Regions from separate parts of the Homo sapiens genome. Here region 2 is linked to region 1. The links come from fine-mapping of genetic effects on gene expression. A gene starts in region 1. The other region holds a variant in brackets. All regions are shown on one strand. Distances are from middle to middle.

Evidence for each region. PIP is the estimated chance that this variant, and not a neighbour inherited with it, causes the effect.
Region 2: its variant is fine-mapped to the expression of NQO2 in thyroid (GTEx, PIP 0.93).

What each region holds. Positions count from the first base shown.
Region 1 is chr6:2,992,597-3,008,224 of GRCh38, reverse strand. NQO2 (N-ribosyldihydronicotinamide:quinone dehydrogenase 2) reads right to left here and starts at 8,331. Exons shown (of 7, transcript NM_000904.6): 1 at 8,140-8,331; 2 at 1,666-1,757. The coding sequence starts at 1,672. NQO2-AS1 (NQO2 antisense RNA 1) reads left to right here and starts at 8,550. Exons shown (of 2, transcript NR_186367.1): 1 at 8,550-8,834. RefSeq lists silencers at 8,333-8,582, 14,128-14,312.
Region 2 is chr6:3,022,247-3,035,679 of GRCh38, reverse strand. It overlaps LOC101927759 (a long non-coding RNA gene), which reads right to left and starts at 11,617. Exons shown (of 3, transcript NR_152848.1): 1 at 11,507-11,617; 2 at 8,809-8,927; 3 at 8,246-8,735. It also overlaps the pseudogene HTATSF1P2. RefSeq lists enhancers at 8,563-8,722, 9,691-9,800, 11,244-12,443 and a silencer at 9,911-10,205. The variant C/AC (reference allele first, on the strand shown) is at 7,180.

The sequences.
Region 1 (15,628 bases):
GCTGGTCTCGAACTCCCGACCTCAGGTGATCTGCCCACCTTGGCCTCCCAGAGTGCTGGGATTACTGGTATGAGCCACAGCACCTGGCCCCAGAAATACCAAACTTTCTAATAGGTGGCAGTTTTAAAGCAATGGGCATTTTAAAAATCCAGTTATTCATAGCTCAACATCACAATACAATGGGTCAAATTATATCTCCTCAAAAATACCACCACTAAATCTTTTAAAAGCCCAACCTAATTTGGTTATCCTCTGTAAGAAGGTTTAGACCAGCTCCCTAACACCAAAATAAAGAACTGCTGGAATTAGTCTTCCATGCTAACCCTACATTTGCAGATATCAGCTACAGGCACCTTTCAGTGTGGCACAGTTCTGCTTCCATCTCCCCCAGTCCATCAAATCTGACACTTAAACAAAACATGAGGAATCAGACCCGCTGGTCTCATGGGAAGGCAGGGCCACATGGAGCCCATCTTTCAGTGGTGATGCTGATAACAAAGAGGACTCTAGGAAGAGTCAGGCCCTCCTGGCACTGGCAGTATCGTTCACACCAGGGGCTTCTGAAGCAGTATTTTCCTCATTGGAAAGAGTCTCCAGGCTTATATACTGACTTCGTCTGGGAGGCAGCCTGGTGATTTGCTTAATTAAATTTACCCTGGTCACCTTTAAGAAGATGTTAAACTCTTGATTTAAATTTTTCATAATGACACTTTAAGGAAAAGATACACGTATCAGTTTGAAGCAATGGGTTTCAGGGCATTGAGCTGGCTACAAAGGTTGAATTCCATAAGTTAGATTCATGGTTAACATTTTAATTTTACTTTCTCAGACTCTTGTTTCAATAAAGGAACTATACTTAGGGGCTTAACAGGAGAATAGATGCAAATGAAATACCTACACCAATGGTTCTCAACTGGGGCAGTGTTGTGCCTGCTAGGGGACGTTTCTCAATGCCTGGAGACATTTTGGTTTGTCACAGCCGGTGGGGGAGGGGTGCTACTGGCATCTGGTGGGCAGAGGCCAGGGATGGTGCTAGGTGCTAAACAGGGTGCACAGGATGACCCCCCAAAACATAGGATTATCTGGCCCAGAATGTCAGTGGTGCCAAGGGCGAAAATCCGAATCTACACCATAATGTATAGAGTAAGGTGAACCTGTGCGTTCTAACACGAAAGGCTCTCCATGTTATATCGTTAGGTGAAATTAAAAAGTTGAGAGATTGCATGTTCATGTATATGTGCATGATAAGCAGTTGCAAAAGCAAAGATAGAATCGTACTGAATTTTTACCCAAGATGCCTCCTGGGGTTCATTCACTTGAGCCCCTGCTACAGCCCAGGGAGAATTTCAGGGCCTGGAGGCACAGCAAAGACAGGATAGGCAGGGCCCCACTTTTGAGGAACCTAAATTCTGGAGGGAGTCGAAAGGAACAATGAAACAAGTGAGAACATAGAAAACAAGATAATTCCAGATAGTTTATACACTTCCACGTGGCTTGGATTTTTTACAACAATGTATCCAATTTCTGATTAAGAGTCTAACTCCCACCTGGAAGGTCAATGTGGGAGGGTCACTTGAGCTCAGGAGTTTGAGACCAGCCTGGGCAATACAACAAAATCCCATCTCAAAAAAAAAAAAGTCTTACTCCACAATAGTGAATCATTACCTGCCATAGCGTAAGAAGGTGGATTCCTTCTCTCTGATTTGATGGGTGGCTGGGGCTTTCCTGCGTAGTCTCTCTTCAGCGAGTCCAGCAATCTGGAAGACAAAACGAACCCAGAGGGGGTGGGGAGAGGCATAGGTGAGGTCGAATGTACCACATCTAGGCATCACTGCTGCTTCCTGACAGACACGCAAACACATCAGAGAAAGACCTCTCAAGAGAGGCCAGGAATCTTCTGGAGATTTAGGCCTCAGAGGACAAGCCACGCAGGATGTCAAAACCCATACTTTTTTCCTTTTTTGAGAGGACTCTGAACCTTCCATCCAGACAGTCATACAGCAAAGGACCCAGGAAATGAGCCACGGTAGGAAGCAGGAGTTGAGCCTCCTTGGCCTTCCTGCCTTCCCCAGTTTTCCCCGTAGATCGAGCAGAAGGCTGGGGGATCAGTGAACCGCCACACCACCAATGGGTGCGTGCACTCCTCGGCTGGTGCCAGACTCTGGTGGGCCAGCACTGGCAGTTGTCGGCCCTTCCCCTCACTTGAAAATAATGGGAGTTGGCTTAGACCCAGGCTCTAACCAGAAGTCTCAGAGATTCTCCAGGGATGCAGCGGAGGCCAGAGGAGCAGAGGAGACCCCCGCATCAGACAGACTTGGTGCAATTTCCAGCTCTGCCCATTGTAGCTGTGGGCCCTGCAGCACATCCCTCCACCCCTCTGTGCCTCAACCTCCTCATCAACAAAGTCACAGCATGGCCCAGAAGAGTGAGAGAGAGACAGTTGCTATGTGCGGTGGCTGGCACACAATGGGGCTCTGGAAAAACGTGAGTTCTCCCCAGGGGAGCCTTTGGCCTCACCCCCTCCTGGCCATCTCTGAAATTCTGGCTTCCTTCTGGGAGATACAAGGAGACTCCAACAAACCCACTCTCCCTACCATAAAAAAACAGCTCAGATAAAACTTAACAACAACAAAGCAAACAACTCAATGCAAAAATGGGCAGAAGGCTTGTGTAGGCTTTTCTCCAAAGATGTATGAATGGTCAGTAAGCCATGAAAAGATGCTTAGCATCACTAATCATTAGGGAAATGCAAATCAAAACCACAATGAGATCCCATATCACACGCATTAGAATGGCTACTACTACCAAAAAACAAAACACACGTAGGTGAGGATGCGGAGAAGTTGGAACCCCGTGCACCGCTGGGGAAAGGTCGAGTGCTGCCGCTGCTGGAGAGGTGCTGTGCCCCCAAAAATTACAATTAGAAAAATGAGAATTAACATATGACTCAGCAATTCCATTCGTTACTCTGAACCCAAAAAACTGAAAGCAGGGTCTTGAAAACCACTTGCCCACCCATGTTCAAAGCAGCATTTTCCACAACAGCTAAAACATGGAAGCAACCCAAGTGTCTATCAGTACATGAATGAAAACAGCCAGAAAATTCTACCCTTAAAAGTGGCTAAAATGAGGTCAGGCACCGTGGCTCACACCTGTAATCCCAGCACTTTGGGAGGCTGAGGCAGGTGGATTACCTGAGGTCAGGAGTCCGAGACCAGCCTGGCCAACATGGCGAAACTCCGTCTCTACTAAAAATACAAAAATTAGCCGGGCGTGGTGGTGTGCACCTGTAATCCCAGCTACTCGGGAGGCTGAGACAGAGCGAGACTCTGTCCAAAAACACAAAAAACAAACAAACAAAAAAAGTGGTTAAAATGGTCAATTTTATGTGAGATGTTCTGTACCACAGTAGGAAAAAATGGGATAAAAAAACAATGCAGAGAGTGTGACTAGGGCTTAGTGTGAAGACACGCATCGCGCATGTTGTGTCCAAACGACAACGTGAACCTATCAGTGTGTCTTTACAGCAAAACAAAAAGCACAGAGACACACAAAAGTGGTGCTTATCCCCACCAGGACTGGAATCTTGAGCAGGGCCTGAATGAGCATCTTCCAGGGCCCACTCCTTATCTCCAGCTGTCCAGGAGCACAGGCACAGGGCTGGGGTCTGCAGAATACTGCAAGAAGTGAGGTGGGTGCTGAGGAGTGGGCTCCACCCAGGCCAGGTGCCCTGTGGATGGAAAGGAAAAGAGGCTACATCATTGTGGCTGAAGCTGAGTTGGGGGCAGGCATGGGACTTAACAGAGTGGGGCACTGTCACTCCCCAAGAGGGCAGACAGCTCTGATCACTCCAAACACCCAAAGGTGACTTCAAATCCTTCCCCATTCGCTTGACTTCACTGGACAGCTGGGAACCTGCATCTTTAGTGACTGAATATCCCCACTCTGGTTCCCCAAGGACAGACCCTGAATTGATTCCAGGAATCCACGTGTACAGGTAAGCACTACATTTCCTAGGCTGCCTTGCAGTTGAGATGGCCAGTGAGGTGTCAGCAGAAGTCACAGGCGGGGCTTCCAAGAAATACCCTCAAGAAGCGAACTCAGCTGGGGCTGGGAGGTGTGGGAGCTAGCTCCCTCTGGCTTTGTCGCTGGCTCTCTTCCCAGCTGGACTGTGGGATGATGTTAGGGCTCAGTCAGCCTTCTTGTCGTCCTGGGGATGGAGGCTATGCACCAAGGGCAGGGAGCAGAAATACCAAAGGAACCTGGATTCCCGGGGCTCTCTTGGGGCTGCAAGATGGTGGTGGATTGGCAACTGCAGATATTTGTGTTTATGTATTTTCCATGCAGAAACATCTACAATGGCACTGAGTCTGTAGCGAGGGCCATGCACTGTCTGTCTGAAAGTGCTCCAGGCACAGGCTTTGTGTCCAAGTACCTTGCTGTGTTTAAGGTACATCACAGCACCGGAGAATGTGGGAGAGGTCACATTCATCCCTTCAAAGCGCAGGGAGGTTCCTATTCTGACACCAGCAACACTTACAAGAATGAACCTAAAGCTGGGCAGTGAGGAAGGAAAGGAAAAAGAAAGTTTATGAATACAGGTAGTATTGTTTGAACCGGTAAGTTGCACTATAAATCACAATAAAAGATAGTCTGTATATCACTAAAACAGAAGAGTTGGCCGCCCTGAGGATGAGGCCTTTGGGTCTCCAGGCATTTGCCAGCTCTCCTAGCCTAGGGGCAGGGGCGCCTGCACAGCCCTCTGCTTTTCCTAGAATTCTCAGCAGCGAGCATGTGTCAGGGAGAGACATGGTTGTCTTAGCACTGAGGCTGAAATCCTGGATGTTCTTGGGAGGGCAGTGATTGTGAAGAACAAGTTACTTGTCTAGTTCCTGGGGGTCACTCCTCAAAGCCTCCCGATGAGGCAAGTTTACAGGATCCATGCTCCCTGAGCCAGCAGTGACACCCACACTTGGCAGTGAGAAGTGGGGCTGTAACTTACAGGGTGAGCCAAAATGGCGGGTCTGGAAAGGGATTATCTTAAAGGAAAAAGAGAGGAGAGTGAGTGACTTCATCATTAGCTGGGAGGCTCTACAGTGCCCTGGTGGACAGTCACTGCCTGGAGGTGACTTTGTAGAAAGCAAACTTTGGCTATCACAATGCATAGGGAGGCCTGGCAAAGCCCAGGGAAGCAGAAGGCCCAGCACTTTGAGAGGCTGAGGCAGGAGATCACTTGAGCCTAGGAATTTGAGACCAGCCCGGGCAACATAGTGAGATCCCATCTCTACCAAAGATTTTTAAAAATTAGCCAGGTGTGGTGGTGCATGCCTGTAATCCCAGCTACTCAGGGGGCTGAGATTAGAGGATTGCTCCACTCCAGACTGGGTGACAGAGTTAGGCTCTGTTTCAAGAAAAAAGAGAAAGTAAAAGAAAAAAAAGAAAGCCTGTTTGGCTGAACTGTGGTTCAAAAAAAAAAAGAGTGGATGGTGGTAGATGCAGTCAGGGAGGTGGGAGGGGTCTGACCTGACCCCTCCTAGGGTAGGGGTGAGGATTTTATTCTAAGCCTGACAGAAAGCCCTTGGAGCCTCTTAAGCTGGAGAGTAATATGGAATGATCGCCAGTTGTGGTGGCTCACACCTGTAATCCCAGCATTTTGGGGGGCCGAGGTGGGGGGATCACCTGAGGTCAGGAGTTTGAAACCAGCCTGGTCAATGTGGCAAAACACCATCTCTACTAAAAAATACAAAAATTATCCGGGTATGGTGGCATGTGCCTGTAGTCCCAGCTACTTGGGAGGCTGAGGCAGGAGAATCACTTGAACCTGGGAGGTGGAGGTTGCAGTGAGTCAAGATTGTGCCATTGCACTCCAGCCTGGGCAACAGAGCAAGACTCTGTCTCAAAAAAGAAAAAGAAAATAGAGTGATATGAAATGATTTACCTTTGTAAATGTTGCCAGTGTTTCTGCAGACTGGGGGAACACCTTATCCTGATTCCCAAAGTGATTGCCCGAAATCATGTTGTTTGTATGAAATGCTTCATTTTCACTCCTCTAGACAGGGCATCCATTCTTCAGTGTCCCCAGCTCACCACTCCCTTTTGTATTCCTTGGCCCAGTTTACATGTTTACATCATATGGCTGGTGGCATGTGAGTTTGTGACTTCTGTCTCCATCCCCCTAGCGGTTAAGAATAAGAATCTGAGGTCCAAGAGCTGAGTGACTAACTCAGCTCTATTTGAGTGACTCAGCTCTATTTTCTATACTATTTGAAATAGTGGGGAAAGACTCCAACACAGGCTCTTGACTTGCAGTTGTGTCACTGTTCACTTGACCCCAGGCACTTCCCTTGGCACCCCATCCACAGCAGTGACAGTTCTCTCCCTTTTTAGAAACTATGCACCTACCCAGGCCTACAGGAAAAAAGAGCCATGTGGTTATTAAACTGTATATACCAGGTCAAGTGGGCTCTGATATTTTTGACGTGTACATTATTTAATTTTAAGAAGTTATTTTATAATGTTTTCACTTTTTTTCCTGTGCCTCTTTCCATGTGGACAGTCCCCGTGCTGGGCATTCTAACAGACAACATCTCACAGTGTATTCAGTGTGTATTCATGCGGCAGCTAAACCATTGCCTGCATACCCTTTTGTGCCCATTTTCCTATTTCTGGGACCTTAGGTTATTTCCATTTTTTTCCCAAAACTATAAACAGCACAGCTAGAAGTATATATTATTTAATACTTGTTCCTTTTCATGTATTTCTTTGGCTGTGATCTTCGGAGATTAAAGGTTAAACTGATTTATTTTTTCAGAGATTAAAGGTTAAAGAAGCTGATTTTTGGCCGGGCGCAGTGGTTCATTAATCCCAGCACTCTGGGAGGCCGAGGCAGGCGGATCACCTGAGGTCAGGAGTTTGAGACCAGCCTGACTAATATGGTGAAACTCCATTTCTACTAAAAATACCAAAAATTAGCTGGGTGTAGTGGCACGCACCTGTAATCCCAGCTACTCGGGAGACTGAGGCAGGAGAATAGCTTGAACCCGGGAGGCAGAGGTTGCAGTGAGCTGAGATTGTGCCATTGCACTCCAGCTTGGGCAATAAGAGTGAAACTCCATCTCAAAAAAAAAAAAAAAAGAAAAAGAAAGGAAGAAGAATGAGTTCAAGACCAGCCTGGCCAATATGGTGAAACTCCCACCTGTACTAAAAATACAAAAATTAGCCGGGCATGGTGGCAGGCGCCTGTAATCCCAGCTACTCAAGGGGCTGAGGGGGGAGAATCGCTTGAACCTGGAAGGCAGAGGTTGCAGTGAGCTGAGATTGCCCCACTGCACTCCAGCCTGGGCAACAGAGTGAGACTCTTCTAAAAAAAAAAGAAAAAAGAAAAAGAGGGCCGGGAGCAGTGGCTCACGCCTGCAATCCCAGCACTTTGGGAGGCCCAGGCGGGCGGATCACGAGGTCAGGAGTTTGAGACCAGCCTGACCAACATGAAACCCGTCTCTACTAAACATACAAAAAATTAGCCAGGCGTGGTGGCACGCCCCTATAATCCCAGGTACTCGGGAGGCTGAGGCAGGAGAATTGCTTGAACCCGGGAGGCGGAGGTTGCAGTGAGCCGAAATCGTGCCACTGCACTCCAGCCTGGGCGACAGAGTGAGACTCCGTCTCGGGGAAAAAAAAAAAAGCTGATTTTTTTTTTTCCCAGAGAGATTATAGGTTAGAGAAGCTGATTTTTCATTTTTTCCACAGTGCCACAATGTCCTTGACAAAGGCAGCGCAAACCAGTGGTTCAGCCGCGCCTTCAGGGCAGCGCTGGGCAGCGCACGGGCCTAAACCCCGGTACCCCCTTTACAGACTGACCTTGGGCCCGCTGATTCCTACTTGTAATATGACTATGATACCAGCACCCGCTCCATAGGGTTGAGGGCAGATTCCACCAGACGATTCGACACCGGGACCCTGCGTGTGGGCGCGTTCCGTGAGAGCCAAGCACGATCCTATGTACAGAATGGTCCCTGGCCCGGGCGCGACGACCCACAGGGCCATATGGCCGGCCAGCTGAAATCCCTGAGAGCGTTCTGGCCGTCCAGTCCGGGAACTGTCCTTCCCAAGTCCCCCGGTCCCCGACAGGGGATCACTCACCTTCCGACCAGCGCACTCCCCAGTAGGAGCCGCAGGACTGGGACCCGCGTCTCCCCAAGGACCGCTCTAGGAGTTGCGCCAGGTTCCGGCCGCACTGGACCGCGCACTCGCTGACGCCTGGAGGGCGGGAGCGCTGCGACTGCGCCCCCGGGGACCACGGACCGGTGCCAACCTAAGCAGCCCGGAACCTGCCCCGCGCCGCGGGACTGCAGGCCTCTTTACGCAGCGCGCCTACCACGCCGAGGCCCCGCCCACTCACCCGCCCCGCCCGTGAGCCCCGCCCACACCCCGCCCCGCCCCCGAGCCCCGCCCACTCCCCGCCCCGGCGGTGCGGTGCCTCGCTCCGCGCCCGTCCGCGCCCAGGCCCCGCCTCCACAGCGGCGTCCCGCCCCACCCACACCTCGCCTCGGCCCCTAAGCTCCGCCCACTCCCCGCCCCTGAGGTCCATCTGGGGCCTCGCCCGGCGATCTGGGACTGGGGAGGACCCTGCTGACTTCCAGGCAGGTGGAAACTGGATTGATAGAAATCCAGCGCGGGGAGGCTGTGCTGAGAGGAGGGACGCCCCTGCCCTGCGCCTCCCGCTCCCCATCTCTGGCTGGTATCCCGGTTACAGAATGAGGGTCCGTGGTGCAACAGAAAGAATGAGCCACTGATACACTCATCAGCTTGCTCGGATCTCCCGGGGAGTTACGCTGGTGAGAGAAACCAGTCCCAAAGGTCACTCACCGACGGCGCCGCTGGTGTACTGGTATTATGCAAGATGCCCTCGCAAAGGTCACGCACGGATGGTTCATTTATCCAAAGACCAAAGGAGAGAAATGCAGGACTCATTAGCAGTGCCCAGGAGATAGGGGGGCGGGTGGGTGTGGCTATAAAAACGCAACCCGGGGGGTGCCTGTGAAGGAAATCTGCGTCCCGCGGAACGCAACACGCTGTTGGGATACTGGATTGTCCTTTGTGAGATGCCACTATCGGGGGAAACCGGATGGCTTCACAGAAAAAGTTCGTTTAAAGGAAAATGGTTTAAGGCCAAGGAAATACCTAGAAAACGGAAAGTCTTGAAACCAGAGCCGGTGGGGAGTTATGGGGGGCGGTGCTGGTGAACAGTTTGGGCCGACTTTTTCCAGCGCTTGCTGGCTTCTGCCACCTCATTTGGCAGTCACCTGCCACTGTGACCTCCCCAAGTCCCTTCTCCAAACTCAATTCCTTGATTTCTGGTGTCCCGGGATGGCCCCACTCCAACAATAGAGCAGAAGGAAGGAAGGTTTCCCCTGTGTTTAGAACGTTCCTAACGAAAATAACTGCAACTCTTGATTGTACCTCCTGAGGGTCGTTGGGACTTTCCCTCTCAGACATTTATTGGTTCATTCATTCGTTCATTTTGCTGTAACTCACAGTGGCCCTCCCCATCCTAAGGTGCACTGCTGGGATTGGTCTATGTGCTGATGATGTTCTCCTTGTCTTCAGAGGTGAGAATGTGCCCTCCCTCCGAGATGCCCTCTTGCCCCTGAGCTCCCCAGCAGGGAATAGGCTGCCTTGTCTTGTGAGTCCAGATCCTGGGAACAACTTTCATTTAGGAATGGAACAGCAGGTCCTGGGAGCATTGGCGCCTGCGCGCCCATCATGCGCGTGTGTGATGCAACATCACCACCTTGTGGCAGCGAGGAGCTATCACAACGTGGACTGAGCAAGTTGCTCCCTGCTTGGGGTTGGGAGCTGGACTGGCCTAGTTCCCTGGGTCTTTTGTAACCTGAATGGTGGTAGATTCCAGGACAGTTCAGTAGGAGCCCATCCTCAAAAGGAAAATAACAGAACTTCCTGCTAATCTGGTATTGGGGCTGAGCAATTACTGCACACTAATGAGATTGACCATAATTGCATCCTGAGTTTGAGGAGGAGGTCATGCTACTAAAATGAGATAAAATCAGCTCCAACGACAAACATCATCTCTGGGGGTTTCCAGATTCTCACTTTTCATTTAATCCCCAGCCTTAGTGGAAAGCAAGAGTCGGAGTCGGCATTCTGGGCAGGGAGGCAGGTGAGGCAGGTACACATCTCCTCTTCTCCCCAACGCCCCATGTTTCTATTTCTGAATAAAATGAACCATCATGGTGCTAAGGTAAAGCTAAACTAGCTGAGCCACCTCCTGAAGAGGTCATTGCTTTTGTTTTTATTTAATGAGATTTCTTTCCCTTCTGCTACCAGCATCCCTATTCCTTTGGAAAACTGCTTCTTCATAATAACATAAAGGTTTTGGATTTTTTGTTTTGTTTTTTGGGTAGCAAAATCTGTATAACATGAAATTTTCTATTTTCACCATTTTAAGTGTACAATTCAGTGGCATAAATTACCTTTAGAGTGCTGTGCAACCATTACAACTATTTATTTTCAAAACGTTTTCATCATCCCAAATAGAAACACTTGGGTCAGGGGCCATAGATCACGCCTGTAATCCCAGCACTTTGGGAGGCAGAGGCATGCAGATCACCTGAGGTCAAAAGTTTGAGACCAGCCTGGCCAACATGGCGAAACCCCATCTCTACAAAAATTTGCCAGGTGGTGTACACCTGTAATCCCAGCTACTCAGAGGCTGAGGCAGGAGAATTGCTTGAACCCAGGAGGCGGAGGCTGCAGTGAGCTGAGATCGTGGCACTGCACTCCAGCCTGGATGACAGAGCGAGACCCTGTCTCAAACAAAAACAAAAACAAATAGAAACACTGCACTCATTGGATAATAAATCCCCATTCTCCCCTCCTTCCACTCCTGGTAGCCTCTAATCTACTTTCTGTCTCCATGAATTTGTCTATTGCATGTATTTCATATAAGTGGAATCCTACAAGATGTGGCCTTTTCACTAAGCTTTTTTTCCTCAAAAACCTTGTTGCTGAGTTTCATCCATGTTGTAGTATGCATCAGAACTTCATTCCTTTTTATGGCCGAATAATAGAAAAATGTGTATACCGCCTGGCCAACGTGGGGAAACCCCATCTCTACTAAAAACACAAAAATTAGCTGGGCATGGTGGTGTGCACCTGTAGTCCCAGCTACTCGGGAGGCTGAGGCAGGAGAATCACTTGAACCCAGGAGGCAGAGGTGGCGGTGAGCTGAGATTGTGTCATTGCACTCAAGCCTGGGCAACAAGAGCAAGACTGACAGAAAGAAAAGAAAGAAGAAAGAGAGAAAGAAAAAGAAAGGAAGGAAGGAAGGAAGGAAGGAAGGAAGGAAGGAAGGAAGGAAGGAAGGAAGGAAGGAAGGGTACCAGGCATTGTTTATCCACTCATCTGTTGTTTGACTATTGTGAATAATATTGCAATGATTATTGGTGTACAAGTATCTGTTTCAGTCCCTGTGTTCAATAATTTTGGTTATACACCTTGGAGTGGAATTGTCGGTATTACAATTCTATGGTCATTCTATGTTTAGCTTTCTGAGGAACAGCCAAACTGTTTTCCACAGCGTCTACACCATTTCACATTTTCACCAACAATGTACACAGGTTCCAACTTCTCTACATTCTCACGCACATTTGTTATGTTTCTTTTTTTTCCCTCTAAATTATAGCCATCCTAGCAAGTGCGAAGTGGTATCTCATTGTGGTTTTGATTTGCATTTCCCTAAGGACTAATGACTTTGAGCATCTTTTCATGTGCTTACTGGCCATTTGTATACCTTCCTTGGAGAAATGTCTATTCAAGTCCTTTGTTGACCATTTAATTGGGTTGTTTGTCTATTTGTTGTTGAGTTGTAGGTTTTTTGTTTGTTTTTTGAGACGGAGTTTTGCTCTTGTTGCCCAGGCTGGAGTGCAATGGCGAGATCTCGGCTCACCGCAACCTCCGCCTCCTGGGTTCAAGTGATTCTTATGCCTCAGCCTCCCGAGTAGCTGGGATTACGGGAATACGCCACCACGCCTGGCTAATTTTATATTTTTAGTAGAGACAGGGTTTCTCCATGTTGGTCAGCCTGGTCTCAAACTCCCGACCTTAGGTGATCCGCCCACGTCGGCCTCCCAAAGTGCTGGGATTACAGGCGTGAGCCACCGCACCCGGCCGAGTTGTAGGTGTTCTTTACATATTCTGGATGTTATCAGACATAGGATTTACAAATATTTTCTCCCATTCTGTAGGTTGTCTTTCACTTTCTTGAAAATGTCCTTTGATATAAAAGTTTCACATTTTTTATGAACTCCAATTTACCTATTTTTTGTTGTTTCTTCCTGGGCTTTTAGTGTCTTATCTAAGAACCCAAAACACAAGATCATGAAGATTTACTCTTACGTTTTCCTCTATATGGCTTTAGTTCTTATATTTAGGTTGTGAATTATTTTTCACATATGGTGTGAAGTGGAGCCCAACTTTAGTCTTGCATGTGGAAATCCATTTCTCTCACAGCATATATTAAAGAAACTATTATTTCATCATTGAATGGACTTGGCACTCTTGTCAAAAATTCACTGGCCACAGATGTATGGATTTATTGAGGATCCCTTGTACATCTCTTGCAGCTTTTAAGATTCTCCCTTAGTCTTATACAGGCATATCTGCCTTATTCTGCTTCTCTTTATAGTACTTCCACAGATGTTGCATTTTTTTTTTTTTTACAAATTGAAGGTCTGTGGCAATCCTGTGTCAAGGAAGTCTATGTTTATGTGATCAATATTATTATCAATTATTGTATTGTGATTCCTCAGAAAGGTTACATAATCTATTGACACCTCTAGCATGGGATAGTGACACATATAACAGATACTGACACTCTGTCCATCACTGAACTGTGTGTGGATTGATCAAAGCAATCTTTGAGTGAGTCTAGTTTCCCCTCTGGTAGGACCTACTTAGACGGAGATAAAATATTTTCTCACCGCTTACATTAATCTAGATTTAGATATAGTTGTCCTCCTGTATTTGTGTGTTCCATATCTGCTGATTCAACCAACCTCCAATGGAATATATTTGAAAGAAAAAGCAATACAACAATAAAAAAATACAAATAAAAATACAGTGTAACAACTATTTATATAGCATTTACATTGTATTAGGTACTATATGTAATCTAGAGATTATTTACAGTATATGGGAGGCTGTGCAAAGGTTATGTGTCAATACTATGCCATTTTATATCAGGGATTTGAGCATCTGTGGATTTTGATATATTTGAGGGGTCCTGGTCCCAGTCCTCCATGAATACCCAGGATTGACTATATATTTTTGGATGTTAAATCACCTTGCAGAACTTGAAAAAAAAGTTATCAAGTAAACAATCTCCAGGTGAAATAGTCCATATCAGTACCGTCTTTCAAGTATTAGTTGTTTATCAGTCAGATTACTATTAAGGCTGACATAACTTTGATCAGACCAAGTTTCTGAACAGTTCATATCCCTAAACTGAACATTAGTTCCTCGTTCTCATGCAACACATAGCCCGTTTTTCTTTGCACATTGTCTGATTTTCATATGTGCTTGACACTTAATAATTTTAAGTTCCTATGGCTTTACTAGTGCGTAGGAAAGATTTTCAACTGTATCATAGGACTTGTGAAAATGGAAAGAATGGAAAATGTAAGACGAAGTGTAGACACTAAAATCTTAGACTCAACACCCTTATATCATATGGCCTTCTTCTAAGGAGTGTAGGTTCCTGTCTTAGTCTGTTTTGTGTTGCTATAAAGGAATACCTGAGGCTGAGTAATTTATAAAGATAAAAGGTTTATTTGGCTAATGACTCTGAATGGTTGGAAAGTTCAAGGTTGGGCATCTGCATCTGGTGAGGGCCTCAGGCTGCCTCTACTCATGGAGGAAGGTGAAGGAGAACTGGAGTGTGCAGAGATTACATGGCAAGAGAGTAAGCAAGAGAGAAAGGAGGGAGGTCAAGGATTGTTTCTAACCACCAGCTCTGGAAGAACTCACTCACCCCTGAGGGAGGGCATTCATCTATTCATAAGGATCTGGCCCTGCAACCTAAACACCACCCATTAAGCCCCACTCCAACATTGGTGATCACATTTCAACTTGAGGTCAGGCTTGGCGGTGCTCACCTGTAGTCCCAGCTACTCCAGAGGCTTAGGTGGGAGGATTGCTTGAGCCCAGGAGTTCAAGGCTACGGTGAGTCACAAACACACCACAGCACTCCAGCCTGGGTAACAGAGCGAGGCCCTTATCTATGAAAACAAGAAAAAAGATGAAACAAATTTCAACATGAGGTTTGGAAGGAACAAACATCTAAATCACACAGTAGTTCCTGACCTGAAGCTATTGTCACATTATTGATGTGTATAATTTAGAAATATGTCATTAATAGCCAATACTCAGATCTAGAAAACTAGTGGACAAAGCGAGTGCTTTAAAACCAAAGTGGCATTTAAAAAAAAATCAAACCTACTGGTTTTCCTACTAAGTAAGTCTTGAAATAATGCACTATAGAGATCCTGTCTTATCTATACAGCTAGAGAGAATAACAAATTTTACTTTTATCAGTTAAATAAATTTTGTCTTAATATGACTTATTATTTATATTTATCTTTTTACATTTCAAAAACACTATGTTATTCAATTGAATGACTTATAATTTTTGAGTTACCTGGTCACTGTATTATCATTGTCAGTTATTATATTTCACATGCATTACTTAGTAAAGACAAATCTTGGGGCCGGGCACGGTGGCTCACACCTATAATCCCAGCACTTTGGGAGGCCAAGGCGGGCGGATCACGAGGTCAGGAGATCGAGACCATCTTGGCTAACATGGTGAAACCCTGTCTCTACTAAAAATACAAAAAATTAGCCGGGCGTGGTTGCAGGTGCCTGTAGTCCCAGCTATTCGGGAGGCTGAGGCAGGAGAATGGCCTGAACCCGGGAGGCGGAGCTTGCAGTGAGCAGAGATCGTGCCACTGCACTCCAGCCTGGACGACAGAGCGAGACTCCGTCCCAAAAAAAAAAAAAAAAAAGAAAAATCTTTACCAAGGCCTGATTTCTTGAGCATATTGATATAATATATAGTTAAACATGTTATTGATAGACAAGATGTTTCTCAAGAATATTATGTTTGTGCAGAAATTACCACATAAAATTAAATCCTTCTTTTCGGCTGACTATTTTTTAAAAACTTAGGCTGATATTAATGAAAAAACTGAAACCCAAATGAAGCCTGGAGTTAATAGTAATGTACAACGTTGGGACCTTAGTTTCCACAAATGTATCTGTTTTACTTTAAGATCTTCAAGATGCGGAGCACCCCTACAACGATTAGGAGAGACACAGGCTAGAAATAGTTTATTACTTACAGATCCTGGGGCACATGGCATACTTGGAGGCCACCTTCATGGAAATCAGGGAGTGCAGGCAGAGAGACCAAGACAGCAACCCATGGGCCAACACCTTTATTGGGTCCAGGGTGTTATCCAAACAGGTTTCCCATGGGGAGTTTTATTCGGTGGGTTTACAGCAAGCAGGCATGAGTTCCAGGAGGTGGCACAGTGACTGAGTGGTGGGCCCT
Region 2 (13,433 bases), 29 kb before region 1:
AATCATGGCATAAGGCAAGACGAGCCAGCTTATCACATGGTGAGAGAGGGAGAGAGAGAGATAGAAGGGAGGAGGTGTCAGGCTCTTTTAAACAATCAGCTGTCATGTGAACTGGATAATAGATAAGCTGTTTCAACTAGATAATAGAGTGAGAACTCACTCATCACCAAGGGAACGGCACCAAGCCATGCATGAGGGATCTGCCCCCACGTCCCAAACACCTCCCACTAGGCCTGTCTCCAACATTGGAGGTCACGTTTTAACATGAGATTCGTAGGGGACACACATCCCAACCATACCAGTGATGGAATGTCATCTCCTTGATGATTTTCCATCTCTAGTTCTCTGTATTGCTGAGATAAATGGTTTCTAATGAGAAATCTGCAGCCATTTGAATTGTTGTTCCCCTATGGGTAATATATATATTTTTTCTTTGCCTGCTTTCAAGAGTTTTTCTTTATCCTTATTTTCATGTGTTTTGCTATGATATATCTGGATGTGTATTTCTGTCAGTTTATGTTGTTTGGAGTTTGAGATTGTATTTTGGTTATTGTATTTTTCAGTTGTAAAATTTCCATTTGCTTCTTTTTGTTTTTTTATTTTCGAGACAGTATAACTGTGACACTCAGGCTGGAGCGCAGTGACGTGATCCCAGCTCACTGCAGCCTTGTACTTCTGGGCTCAAGCAATCCTCCTGCTTCAGCCTCCTAAGTAGCTATGAATACAAGCACGTGCCACCACACCCACCTAATTTTTTTTTTATTTTTCGTAGAGATGGGTTCTCACTATGTTACCTAGGCTGGTCTCGAACTCCTGGTCTCAAGTGATCCTCCCACCTTGGTCTCCCAAAGTGCTAGGATTAGATGCGTGAGCTATCGTGCCTGGCCTGTTTCTTTTTTATATCTTCGATTTCTTTACTGAGACTTTCTCCTTTCTCCTGGTTTCTAGAATATTTGTAATGGATCATTGGAGGGTATTTTTGGTTTTGTTTTTGTTTTTTCTGTTTTTTTTTTTTTTAATGATGGAATTTCATTGTCTCATAGATCTGGCCAGAAGTCTGAAGTCAAGATGTCGACAAGACTGGTTCCCTTTGGAGACTGTGAGGGTAGATCTGTTCCATACCTCTCTCCTGGTTCCTAGTGGGCGTAGGTAATCATCGGTGCCCTTGGCTTGCAGCAGCCTCACTATAGTCTCTGCCTCCAGCCTCACATGGCCTTCCCCTCGGAGGCTTCTCTGGGTCTCAAATCTCTCTCTGCTTTCTCTTATAACAACACAGCTACTGGGTTTAGGGTCCACCCTAGATTCAGGATTGTCTCATCTTGAGATCCTTAACTTACTTATGCCTGCAAAGACCTTGTTTCCAAATACGATCACATTCTCAGGTACCAAAGGTTAAGTCTTGCACATGCCTTTTGAGGGGGATACAATTCATCCCACTACAGGGAATAATTTACATATGATAAAATTCAACAATTTTAAGTGGCCAGGCATGGTGGCTCTCCCCTGTAATCCCAGCACTTTGAGAGGCCAAGGCAGAAGGATCGCTTGAGCCCAGGAGTTTTAAGACCAGCCTGAGCAACACAGAGAGACCAGATCCCACTTCCACAAAAAATAAAAAATAATATTTGCCAGGCGTGATGGTGCATGCCTGTAGTCCCAGCTGTTCAGAGAAATCTCTCACCCTATTTCCACCATGTGAGATACAACGAGCAGTTGGCAGCATGTAGTCTGGAAGAGGGCCCTCACCAGGACCGGACTGTGTTGGCACCCTGATCTTGGACTTTCACCATCCAGAACTGTAAGAAATTAATTTCTGTTGTTGATAAGCCACCAGTCTATGGTATTTTGTTATAGCAGCTAGAACTGACTAGGACACTCTATTAAGAAATCTATACTTGACATTCGGAAAATATTGAGAAAGGCAAATACGACCAATGCAAAATTTGGAGACAAATGAAGTTGTTTCTTTCTTTTTTTTAAACTAGAGACTGGGTCTCACTGTGTTGCCCAGGTGGGTTTTGAACTCCTGGGCTAAAGCAATCCTCCTGCCTTGGCCTCCCAAAGTGCTACGATTAGAAGTGTGTGCCACCACACCTGGCCAAGGTTGTTATATTCTAGTAATGATGAAAATGCATCTCAAGCGCATAAGCTTGGGAGGTACCTCCTGAGTAGTGACTGAGGGCATTCATTTGTCTGCACTTGAACTATGGGTGTATGTTTATATTTTGGAAATGTTAAGGAGTACCATTAGTTCCTTTCTCTAAACCCCTATTCCTGGCCCTTGTTATGCCGTTCAATATGTGGTCATAGTGGGACAGTTTCTTAAGAAGAAAGAAAGGGAATCCTTAAAGAAGAGACTAAGACATTAATTAATCCAGTAACTCACAAGCGATGTCTTTCCTTGTGGCCCTTGGCTCAAAGTCCATGGCATGTAAATCAGACACAGTGACTGTGCAGCCCTGCCTGCTCAGTTCACCCACACCCATGTTCTTCAAGGATGCACGTAGATGATGACCACTTTCTTACCTAAGTCACGAGCAGTGAAAGAACCTCATGGGGAAAAAATTCCTCTTAGTCATAATTCAAGGAAGAAGAAAACCATTAGCAAATGCATCACTGTAGTCAAAGCTGAAAAGTAAGACTTTTAGTACATACTCTTAAAATGGTGATCATTTTACACTATTTTAAGGGATAACTTATAAGGTTTACTTTCGTCTAATTTTACAATACACAGTCTTGGAAAATAAGATGGAATAAATCTATGCCCTCTCCAAATGAAATAACTAAACTTTATGAAAAGTCTGATATAATGTGGCTATTCTAGGTGAGAGGTTTTAGCCTTGTCCTTCTGAGAATAATAATAGTTCATGCTGCATGTTGAATTCACCAGGGCACTGACTTTTGCTCTTAGCCATGGTCCTACCCTGACAAATATCAATCTGATCATAAGAATGTTTAGGTTTTCTTCTCCTCCAAGCACAAGGGAATTTGATACCTAATACAAAGCAGAAAGAATGGCCAAAGATCCTGGGAGCCTGAGACCCATCCTCTTTGGGTGGTGATACAGGTAATGGGGAGAAATCTGGCAGTGGCAATGTCTCACGGCTTCGATTATGTGGGCACCTCACCCACCCCTAGTGTGGCGCATTCTCATTTCAGAAATCCCTATAAGACTTCTCGTCTTTCTGGAAGACAAATGGGCAAATAGCTTCTGTGCCAGAGAGAGATGCATGAAAGGCAAAACGCTGAAGTGTGAGCCAGGGAAACTGTGATTATAATGATACAGCCTGGATTTGGAACCGTCTGTTCAGGCCCTTCAAAAGAAAAAATATTGTACATAATGGTAAAATCACTGGTTTCAGTTCATCCTACCAAGAATAGGAGTTGAGAATTAAGCAATGTTATTGTTAAAGTTTTTAATCCTGATCCCCAAAGCCCATGTTTCATGACTTCTAAAAGTAGCTTAATTTTTTCTCCTGAGAATTTAATTTATGGCTCCAATCTGAATATGGCAAAAAGGAGAAGCCCCTGATAGATCGGCCAGCAACCACCTCTCTAGGAGCCAGCGTCAGTGGGGCGGGTCTGTGAGGTTGTCCCAGGGCCCTGCTGCCACCTGCAGCCTGTGCAGCTCAAGGGCATATTCGTGACAGCCAGCCCGACATCAAGTGCACCTGGCATCCTCTGCTGCACAGGAGTGGGAAATCCTGGGAGGTCGAGGCTGCAGTGAGCCATGATCGTGCCACTGCACTCCAGCCTGGGCGAGAGTGAAACCCTGCCTCAAAACAAAAACAAAATCCAGTTCATCTCATCGGTCCCTAAATGCCCTTAATAGCCGCCCTTCCACCCTTAATAGCACAAGAATGCTGAGTGTTTTCTTTCAAACCTTGAGAGGTGAGATAATAGCAAAGTCTGATTTATCCTCTAGCATGGGGGCTTTGACCCTGCCATTCTGGGGTCACTGTTGAGTTTACATCCTGCACAGGCTCATGGACATGTGTCCACTAGGGTGGACATGCCCTTGAGTGTTCAGGGCTCACACTCCCAAGGAGACCTCCGTGTGGACTCTGAAGGTGCCATTGACTCAGCTATTGTCCCCAAAGCAACATGCCCTGCCTCGGTGGTAGGCCTCAAGAAGTTTTGGTGTTGGCGGGGGAACAAGTGGTGTTTTGTTTTGAGACAGGTTCTTGTTCTATCACCCAGGCTGGAGTGCAGTAGTGTGATCATGGCTCACAGCAGCCTCAACCTTCTGGGCTCAAGTGATCCTCCCACCTCAGCCTCTCGAGTAGCTGGGACCACAGGCATGTACTACTATGCTCAGCTAACTTTAAAAAAAATACTTTGTAGAGATAGGGTCTCACTATGGTGCCCAGGCTAGTTTCCAACTCCTGGGCTCAAGCAATTCCCCTACCTCAGCCTCCCAAAGTGGTAGGATTACAAGTGTGAGCCACTGTGCCTGGCCAAGAGGATTTTTAACACAATATGCATCCAGATTTATTTTATATTACTCTTTCTTATCACAAACTATTTCACATGTATAAAAGTAAACTGTATAGAAATTGACTTATACATGACAGTGAAATGAATACTTGAGTTCTCACCATTTAGCTGAAGACACAGATCATTAAAAATACCTTCAAACACCTGTGTGCCCCCTCCCATCACATTACTATCCTGAATATTTAATTATGCTTTTCCACATGAATTTGGCAGGTGATTTTTTATTTGGTATGTTTTTATACTTGGACTGAGTGATATCTATAACCTGTATTTTTCACTCAACTTTATAATTATGAAATATACACATCTTGATGTGTGGACCTGTAGTTAATTATTTGCTAATTGGTTAGTATAGTGAGATGTGTAAATGCTCAATTTTACAGTGAATTTTTGAACGATGTACTAATGGACACTACCCACCAGCAGAGTATGAATTCAACTGTTGACCCACAGTTTCACTAACACCTGGTATTGTCTACATTGCTGGGTGCAGTGATTTTTTTATACCTATGAGATCAATTTTGTTCAAAAATTTTTTTAGAGGGAGTTTCGCTCTTGTTGCCCAGGCTGGAGTGCAATGGCGCGATCTCGGCTCACTGAAACCTCTGCCTCCCAGGTTCAAACAATTCTCCTGCCTCAGTCTCCTGAGTAGCTGGGATTACAGGCATGCACCACCACGCCAGGCTAATTTTGTATTTTCAGTAGAGATGGGGTTTCTCCATGTTGGTCAGGCTGGTCTCGAACTCCCAACCTCAGGTGATCCGCCCACCTTAGCCTCCCAAAGTGATGGGATTACAGGCGTAAGCCACGCGCCTGGCCAATATTTATTATTTTAATGGCATCTGTTTGACTACCACTTACTAAGAGATGTGTCCTGACGTCTCCCACTCTGATAGTGGATTTTTCCATTTCTTTTCATAATTCAGTGTTTGCTTTATATACTTCGAAGCTGTTTATTAGACACATACCAAGTTTGGAATTGGTGTAACTTCATATTGAATTGATGGGTTCATCATTACACAGAGACCTTCTTTATTCCTAATCATGATTTTTGCTCTAATGTCTATTTTTGCTTGATATTCATACAACGATCCTACCTGCTTTTGAGTATTTGCATGGTAAATCTTTTTCCGTCCTTTTACCCTTAACATTTTGTGTTGATGGCTTAGATATATCTCCTGTAAACTGAAGGTAGCTAAATTTAAGCTTTTTATCTAGCTAGACTCTTTTAACTGACATTTTTTTCTATTTACCTTTTTTATGATTACAGGTATATTAGGATTTTTTTTCCACCATTGTATTTTGCACCTCAATTTGTCCTTCTTTTACTGTTGACTTTTTTCCTCCACTCTTATCTTCTTTTGGATGATAGCGTTTTTTCTTATTCCATTTTCCCCCTCTACTAATTTGACCTCAATTTCTATTATTTTAATACTTATCCTAGAAACTTGAATATACATATATCACTTAAAAATCTAAATCATTAGCTTTATCCCCCTCCCTGAAAAAAGAACTGTTTTTATTTGGATTATACCCTCTATATATTATTTTTGCCCAGGATTATAATTTTATCTGCTTTTTAACCCTATAAATTAGGCTATATTGTTATTTATTTACTTTTGAGACATGGTCTCATTCTGTCACCCAGGCTGGAGTACAGTGCAATCATAGCTCACCGCAGCCTTTAACTCCTGGGCTCAAGGGATCCTCCCACCTCACCCTTCCGAGTAGATGGGACTACAGGCGAGCACTGTCACACACAGCTAATTATTTTTATTTTTTGTAGAGATGAGGTCTTGCTGTGTTGCCCACACTGGTCTCAAACTTCTGTTCTCAAGCCATCCTCCCACTTTGGCTTTCCAAAATGCTGGGATCACAGGTGTAAGCCACCGTGCCTGGCCGCTAATCTATGTTTAATTTACTCAGTCTTTCATGTATTTTAATTCTAAACGTTCTTTTGTGTTTCAAATCTGGTCACTTTTGAATGTCTTTCTTTAAACATTTTATACATGATTATTTTGTGTTACATATCCCGTAATGCCAATATTTGAAGACTGTGGGTGATTAAATCTATTGCTTGTTGTTTTTATTTCCAATCATGTTTTGTTTCCTCATGTGTTTGATAATTCTGGAGAGCATATATTACACTCATCTTAATCAATGGGAATCTTAATAGCCATGAGATCATGGTTTTCTCCAGAGAGAATTTATGTTTACTTAAATTACTTACTATACTTAAGGTTTTTATCACTTGGGATCATTTTGTATTTTGCTGACTGCTGGTTGTGGATACAATAAATTCCAAATCCAAACTCTATGGAACAGGAGTTTATTTTTCTACCGAGAAGGAAAAAGGCTGCCTGCCAGTCTCCCTGTAAGGGTGAACGTACTTTTCTACCCACTTTGGAGCTCCTCCACAAAGTCTTGATTCAGCTGCCCACATGGTGTGTCCCGAATTGGTGGGTTCTGAATTGGTGGGTTCTTGGTCTGATTTCAAAAACCCAGCTGCAGACCCTTAGGGTGGGTGTGACAGTTAAGTTTTTTTTTTGGTGGGTTTGCAGTCTCGCTGGCTGAGGCAGAAAGTGAAAGCTGCAGGCCTTTGTGACGACTGTTACAACTCATAAACGCAGTGTAGACCAGAAAAGAGTACAACAGCAAAAGCTATTACAATAAGCAAAAAAA[C/AC]AAAACCGTCACAGCATGGAAACAAATCCGACTTCGTTGCTATTGCTGGCTAGGGCAGCCTGCTTTTATACTCTTATCTGGCCCCACCCACATCCTGCTGATTGGTAGAGCCAAGTGGTCTGTTTTGACAGGGTGCTGATTGGTGCGTTTACAATCCCTGAGCTAGACATAAAGGTTCTCCAAGGCCCCACCAGAATAGCTAGATACAGAGTGTGGATTGGTGCATTCACAAACCCTGAGCTAGACACAGGGTGCTGATTGGTGTGTTTACAAACTTTGAGGTAGATACAGAGTGCCAATTGGTGTGTTTACAATCCCTGAGCTAGACATAAAGGTTCTCCACGTCCCCACCACACTCAGGAGCCCAGCTGGCTTCACCCAGGTGGAGCTGCCTGCCAGTCCCGCGCCCTGTGCCTGCACTTCTCAGCCCTTGGGTGGTTGATGGGACTGGGCGCCTGGAGCAGGAGGCGGCGCTCTTGGGGGAGGCTTGGGCTGCCCAGTAGCTCACGGAGAGTGGGGGAGGCTCAGGCATGGCGGGCTGCAGGTCCCGAGCCCTGCCCCGCGGGAAGGCAGCTAAAGCCCGGCGAGAAATCGAGCGCAGCGCCCGTGGGCTGGCACTGCTGGGGGACCCAGTACATCCTCCGCAGCCGCTGGCCCGGGTGCTAAGCCCTTATTGCCCGGGGCCGACAGGGCCGCCCGGCTGCTCTGAGTGCGGGGCCCGCCAAGCCCACGCCCACCCGGAACTCCAGCTGCCCCGCAAGCGTCGCGCGCAGCCCCGGTTCCCGCTCGCGCCTCTCTCTGCACACCTCCCTGCAAGCTGAGGGAGCCGGCTCCGGCCTTGGCCAGCCCAGAAAGGGGCTCCCACAGTGCAGCGGCGGGCTGAAGGGCTCCTCAAGTGCCGCCGAAGTGGGAGCCCAGGCAGAGCAGGCGCCGAGAGCGAACGAGGGCTGTGAGGACTGCCAGCACGCGGTCACCTCTCAATGGCACAGCCCCCAGGCCTGGTCTTGCTCCCTTTTGCTTGGTTATTAGTATTTGATGCCAACGCAGCCTAAGGTTCCACTCTCGCTTGCCAATCCACTGTCAGCAACTTGTTTATTGTGGTGGTGGTGGTTGTGGGGTGAGGGGTTGGGGATATGCTTGGGCATTTTCCTTCATTTTTATGATCTTAGTAACACATTTAAAAGTGCACTTGCTGTGATTTACTTGGCATCTAGAAGTGTTGCTGCAGGAGAGCTTTTCAGATGTCTTGTCTGCCACAGAACAGGAAGTGAAAGTCTCTGCATGGTTTTTGACCTCACCCAGACACGACACAAGAATCTCTGACCCACAAAACATGAGATCCTTGTTGAGCCGGGGACCCCGCCTTAGGTTTCTGGTGTCGCTTCTTAAAAATGGCCTTTGTTCAGTGCTGCTTCAATTCCCCGAAGGGTTCCTTCCAGCAGTGGAGCAGAGCACAAGCTTTGGAAAAGGCCGCCTGGTTTTTAGTTTGCGTGCTGCCTCTTGTAGGGGTGGAGCCTGGTCAAGTGACTTGAGCTCTGTAAGTTTCGGTTCACCATCTGTAACATGAAGATAACAAAACCTTCTTACAGATTGTCAGCTCAGGCTGCGAGACATCAACAGAGGACATACCTTCCATCCATGATTCAAGAGTTCAGATGACACACACTTGGATTCTGGGCAGCTTTACTCTCAATACATTCTCATCAAACACATCACTGGCTGCATCGACGTTCCAGCGCATCAGCCCACTTTATGGGAAGAAAGAAATGGGGAGAGATGAGCAGAAATCAGACTTCTTAGCAGACACAACCCGAGGCAGGGTCAGCACCTGGGCCGTCAGGATCCCAGACAGGATTTCAAGCTCCTCCTGGGATTCTAGTGGGGAAGGTTTCTCCTGACAGGACTGAGGACACACTGGCACCTTGCGTATCAGCTGGGGCAGCTATGGAAGCTAGACTCCCTTTCTTTCATAGATGGGGAAAGTGAGGCCCGAAGAGGTGGGGGAGCTTGTTCAGGGGTACTCAGCTGCTGGCAGAGCTGGGCCTGGATGCAGGACTGCATCAGCCTCTTCTGCCTCTGTCACTTCCCCACAAGGGCAGATTCTTTCTCACCTTTTCCTCCTCCTTCTTTGTGTATACACTTAACCTGCTTCATGAGGAGATATGCTACTTTAAATTTTGTTATAATTTTTATATACCTCTATGAATGTTTTTAGATTATGGTCATCAGATTCCAAAATTAATTTATGTTTTGTCTTCACTGGAGTACTGCATATTCCCATGTAGATAGTCACCATGCTTGCAGCATTATTTAGGATTCTTTGATTGTAACTGCTGTACACTCAACTCACAGCATTAAGCAAAAAAGGCAACATCTTGCCTCACATAACTGAAGAGCTGAAGAGGAAAAGCTCCAGTTCAGGCAGGGGTGGATGCAGGAGTTCACAGCGTGTCACTAGGAAGTTGTCTCTCTGTGTGGCTTGGCTGCACCGTCCTCTGCCTGGGCTGCATTTGTAGGCCAACGCTGTCTATGTGTTGGCCCCTGACCCACTTACTTCATCACAGCTCCAAGTCCAGAAACAAGAAAGGTCTCTCTTTCCTGATAGGTCCAATGAACCCCTGAGTTCAGTCTCACTCCCTGGGGTGGTTACAGCTAGGCCACGGAACACTGTGATCAGTCAGGGCTGTGAACTGCCACTCCTGGGGTCGGAGGAGGGGCTACCCTTATGAACACCACATAGCTTGGTTGAAAGGGCATGGTTCCCCCACCACACACAAAAAAACAAGGTGTTACAATCAGAAAAAATGGGAATAGATATGGGACAGGCAAAGATGACTCTTCACAGCATCTGCCATGCAGCGGCTCAGAGTGCTTTGTCACTACCCCAATCACAGGCACTTTGGTTGCTTCCAGAGAGGAACCAGACGCCCTGGGTTCAAACCACATCTGCCCCTCTACAGCTATGACCCTTGGGCAGATGTCTTTTTTTTTTTTTTTTTTTGAGATGGAGTCTCGCTCTGTGGCCAGGCTGGAGTGCAATGGCACGATCTCACCTCACTGCAACCTCCACCTCCCGGGTTCAAGTGATTCTCCTGCCTCAGCCTCCCAAGTAGCTGGGACTATAGGCATATGCCACCACACCCGGCCAATTTTTGTATTTTTTAGTAGAGACGGGGTTTCACCATGTTGGCCAGGCTGGTCGTGAACTCCTGACCTCAGGTGATCCTCCCACCTCGGCCTCCTTTTAAAGTGCTAGGATTACAGGATGGAATAACACTTTCCTTTAAGGGCCAACGAAATCACTTGAGCATGCATCCATCAGAGGGAGGGCGGCTTAGGAGAGGTTCCCACACGGTGCCCACTGCTGAACTGTTCATTAGCTAGCTTTTTCCTGCATCCCCATCTTATCGCCATTTTCTGGGGCTCGGTTTTTCCGTCTTGAGAAAGAAATAGGCCTGTGCTTATTTCCCTCTCCCCTGGGACAAGGCACCAGCCACTCTCCTGAGCTGCTGGGAACTTCTCCAAAATTCCTGGTGCTTCCTCACATTGAGCAACATGAGTCTCTTTCCTCTTTTTACCAGGCTCCACCCACGAGAGGCTCTGAGACAAACTACACAACCAAAGAAGTCTTTCTGCATCCACAAAGCCCTGTTTGCCTAAGAAAAAGGTCGCGGGGCCCAATCACACACACCTGGCTGCAGTCATTTCCAATTTTCTTTTTTTTTTTTTAATGGCAATTCCTGCTGCCCTGCTGATACTGAATTTATTTTTTATTTTAAGTTTTTCAGCAATAAGATCTTAAAAACCGGCCGGGCGCGGTGGCTCATGCCTGTAATCCCAGCACTTTGGGAAGCCAAGGCAGGCAGATCACCTGAGGTCGGGTGAGTTCAGCCTGACCAACATGGAGAAACCCTGTCTCTACTAAAAATACAAAATTAGCCGGGCATGGTGGCGCATGCCTGTAATTCCAGCTACTCGGGAGGCTGAGGCAGGAGAATCGCTTGAACCAGGGAGGTGGAAGTCGAGGTGAGCCGAGATCGCGCCATTGCACTCCAGCCTGGGCAACAAGAGTGAAACTCCGTCTCAAAAAAAAATTCTTAAAAACCGGCAGAAAATGTATCAGGGTGCCCGGTACTAACAGGAGATGAGACATAGGCAAGAGCCCAGCCCTCGAATTGCTAACAGTTTTGCTTGGGAACCGGAATTAATGTCTTCAGCATACTCAGGCCAAGGTGACAGCACCGGCTCTCAGAGAGGTTGGATTTCAGCAACTTCCCATCCTCTCAACCCACACAGGAACAGGCCCCTCGGCAGTTCGAGAACGCACCTTCCCATACTTCAGAGTTGCCGGAGGGAGGGTGGAGGACCTCCTGCCTCACAGTGATCTGAGGTCCAGAAACCCTAGGGACCCCAGCTTGAGGCTCTGAAGGGCTGTGACACAGCCTCTTTGCCTGCCAGCCCCGCCCCGGATGCAGCCTGCTGAGCGAGGGTGGAGGAGGGGAGCTATGTGGCCAAAACCCTGAGTCACTGAGGAGCACGAGGGAGCCGCCCTTTCCGGCGTGTCTCCCGAGGCTGTCTGCCCTTCCCCAGCCTCTGCAGCCTACAATCCCAATCAAGAGCCAGCCCGGTTTCTGCAAGCACACAGGAGCAGAAGAGAAACCAGTGAAGACTTCACCGCTGCATATCAGGCCAGCGACGGCTGCTCGGTGACGGCGCTGCTCTGCCACCAAGAAAAACCCCAAACCCACTGATCCCACAAAGAGGGGAGAAAAAGGAAGGCTTCATGCTGAAGAAGGAGAAATACAAACGTGTATGTGCCGGTTTGCCTCTGGTCGTTACCGTGGAGGCATTCACACGCCTGTCCATTTGGCATTATTATGAGCGATCCCCAGACAGAAGAACTTAAGGTCAAGTTTTACAGAGATAACCAAGGACATCTTAAAGGAGACAGGCTGTGCGATCATTGGAAGAGGGAAGCTGTGGATCTTGCATTCATGCATTTGGATGAAGATGACACTGGAAACTGCACGTTGCAGGTTGAGGTGGCCAAGTATCAACGGAATGGGAAATATGAGGCTTCAGGAAGGAAGTGCGCGAACCACAGGAAGGCTCCGTCTCTACGGCAGAAGCGGCCACGCCGCAGCCCATCCAAACGCCGCGACACGAGTGAGTTGTCCTCATCGAACACATTTCATCCTGTGGATTTTGAGGATGGCCAGAGAAGACCTTCAAGGAGAGTCAAGTTTGGACCAACTCGGAGGCTCATTGTCTTTGACAGACACCCAGCTGGTGAACCTGTGTCCTGGAGGAATGCAGGAGCAGCTGCTCATTGTATTCAAACCTTTGATGGAAGGTGGTTTGAATGATAATGGTTGAACAGACTCCAAGGCTGAGAGGACGGGCGGGCGGCTTCCTTCAGTGTCCCTGAGGCCAACACACTCAGTGCTCCGATTCCACAGAGGGGGACTTTGGGTGGTGCTGGGGGCGTTGAGGAAGAAGGGCCCCTGGGCACAGCCAGCAGTGCTGTCCTCAGTAGTGATGACAAGGAGGAGGAGGAAAAGGGAAAAGAGGAGGATATGATGACAAAGATGATATTTAATCCCTCAAACTTGCTTTTAGGGAAGTTCCTCCATCTGCATGTGGCTGTGTGTCAGGGTGATTATTAGTAGGGTTACGTGAACACGGCACAGTGGTACAATGCCATCAGACTAAATTTTTTAAAAGTTTTAAATTTTCATTGTAACTGGCAATTAATGATTTTTAAATTATTTTTATTTATTTATTTGTTTTTTGAGACAGGTCTCATTCCGTCACCCAAGGCTGGAGTGCAGTGGTGTGATCTCAGCTCACTGCAACCTCTGCCTCCCAGCTCGAGCGATTCTCTCACCTCAGCCTCCCAAGTACCTGGGACTGCAGATGTGTGCCACCACACCTGGCTAATTTTTTTTTTTTTTTATAGGGTTGGGGTTTCGCCATGTTGCCCAGGCTGGCCTCAAACTGCTGAACTCAAGCAATCTGCCCATCTTAGCCTCCAAAAATGCTGGGATTCCAGGTGAGAGCCATCACGCCTGGCTATTTTTAAAAAGAGTCTTGCTCTGTCATCCAGGCTGGAGTGCAGTGACACAGTCATGGCTCATTGCAGCCTTGAACTCCTGGACTCACGTGACCCTCTTGCTTCAGCCTCCTGAGTAGCTGGAATTACAGGTGCGTGCCACCATGCCTAACTAATGTATATTTTTAAATTTTTTGTAGAG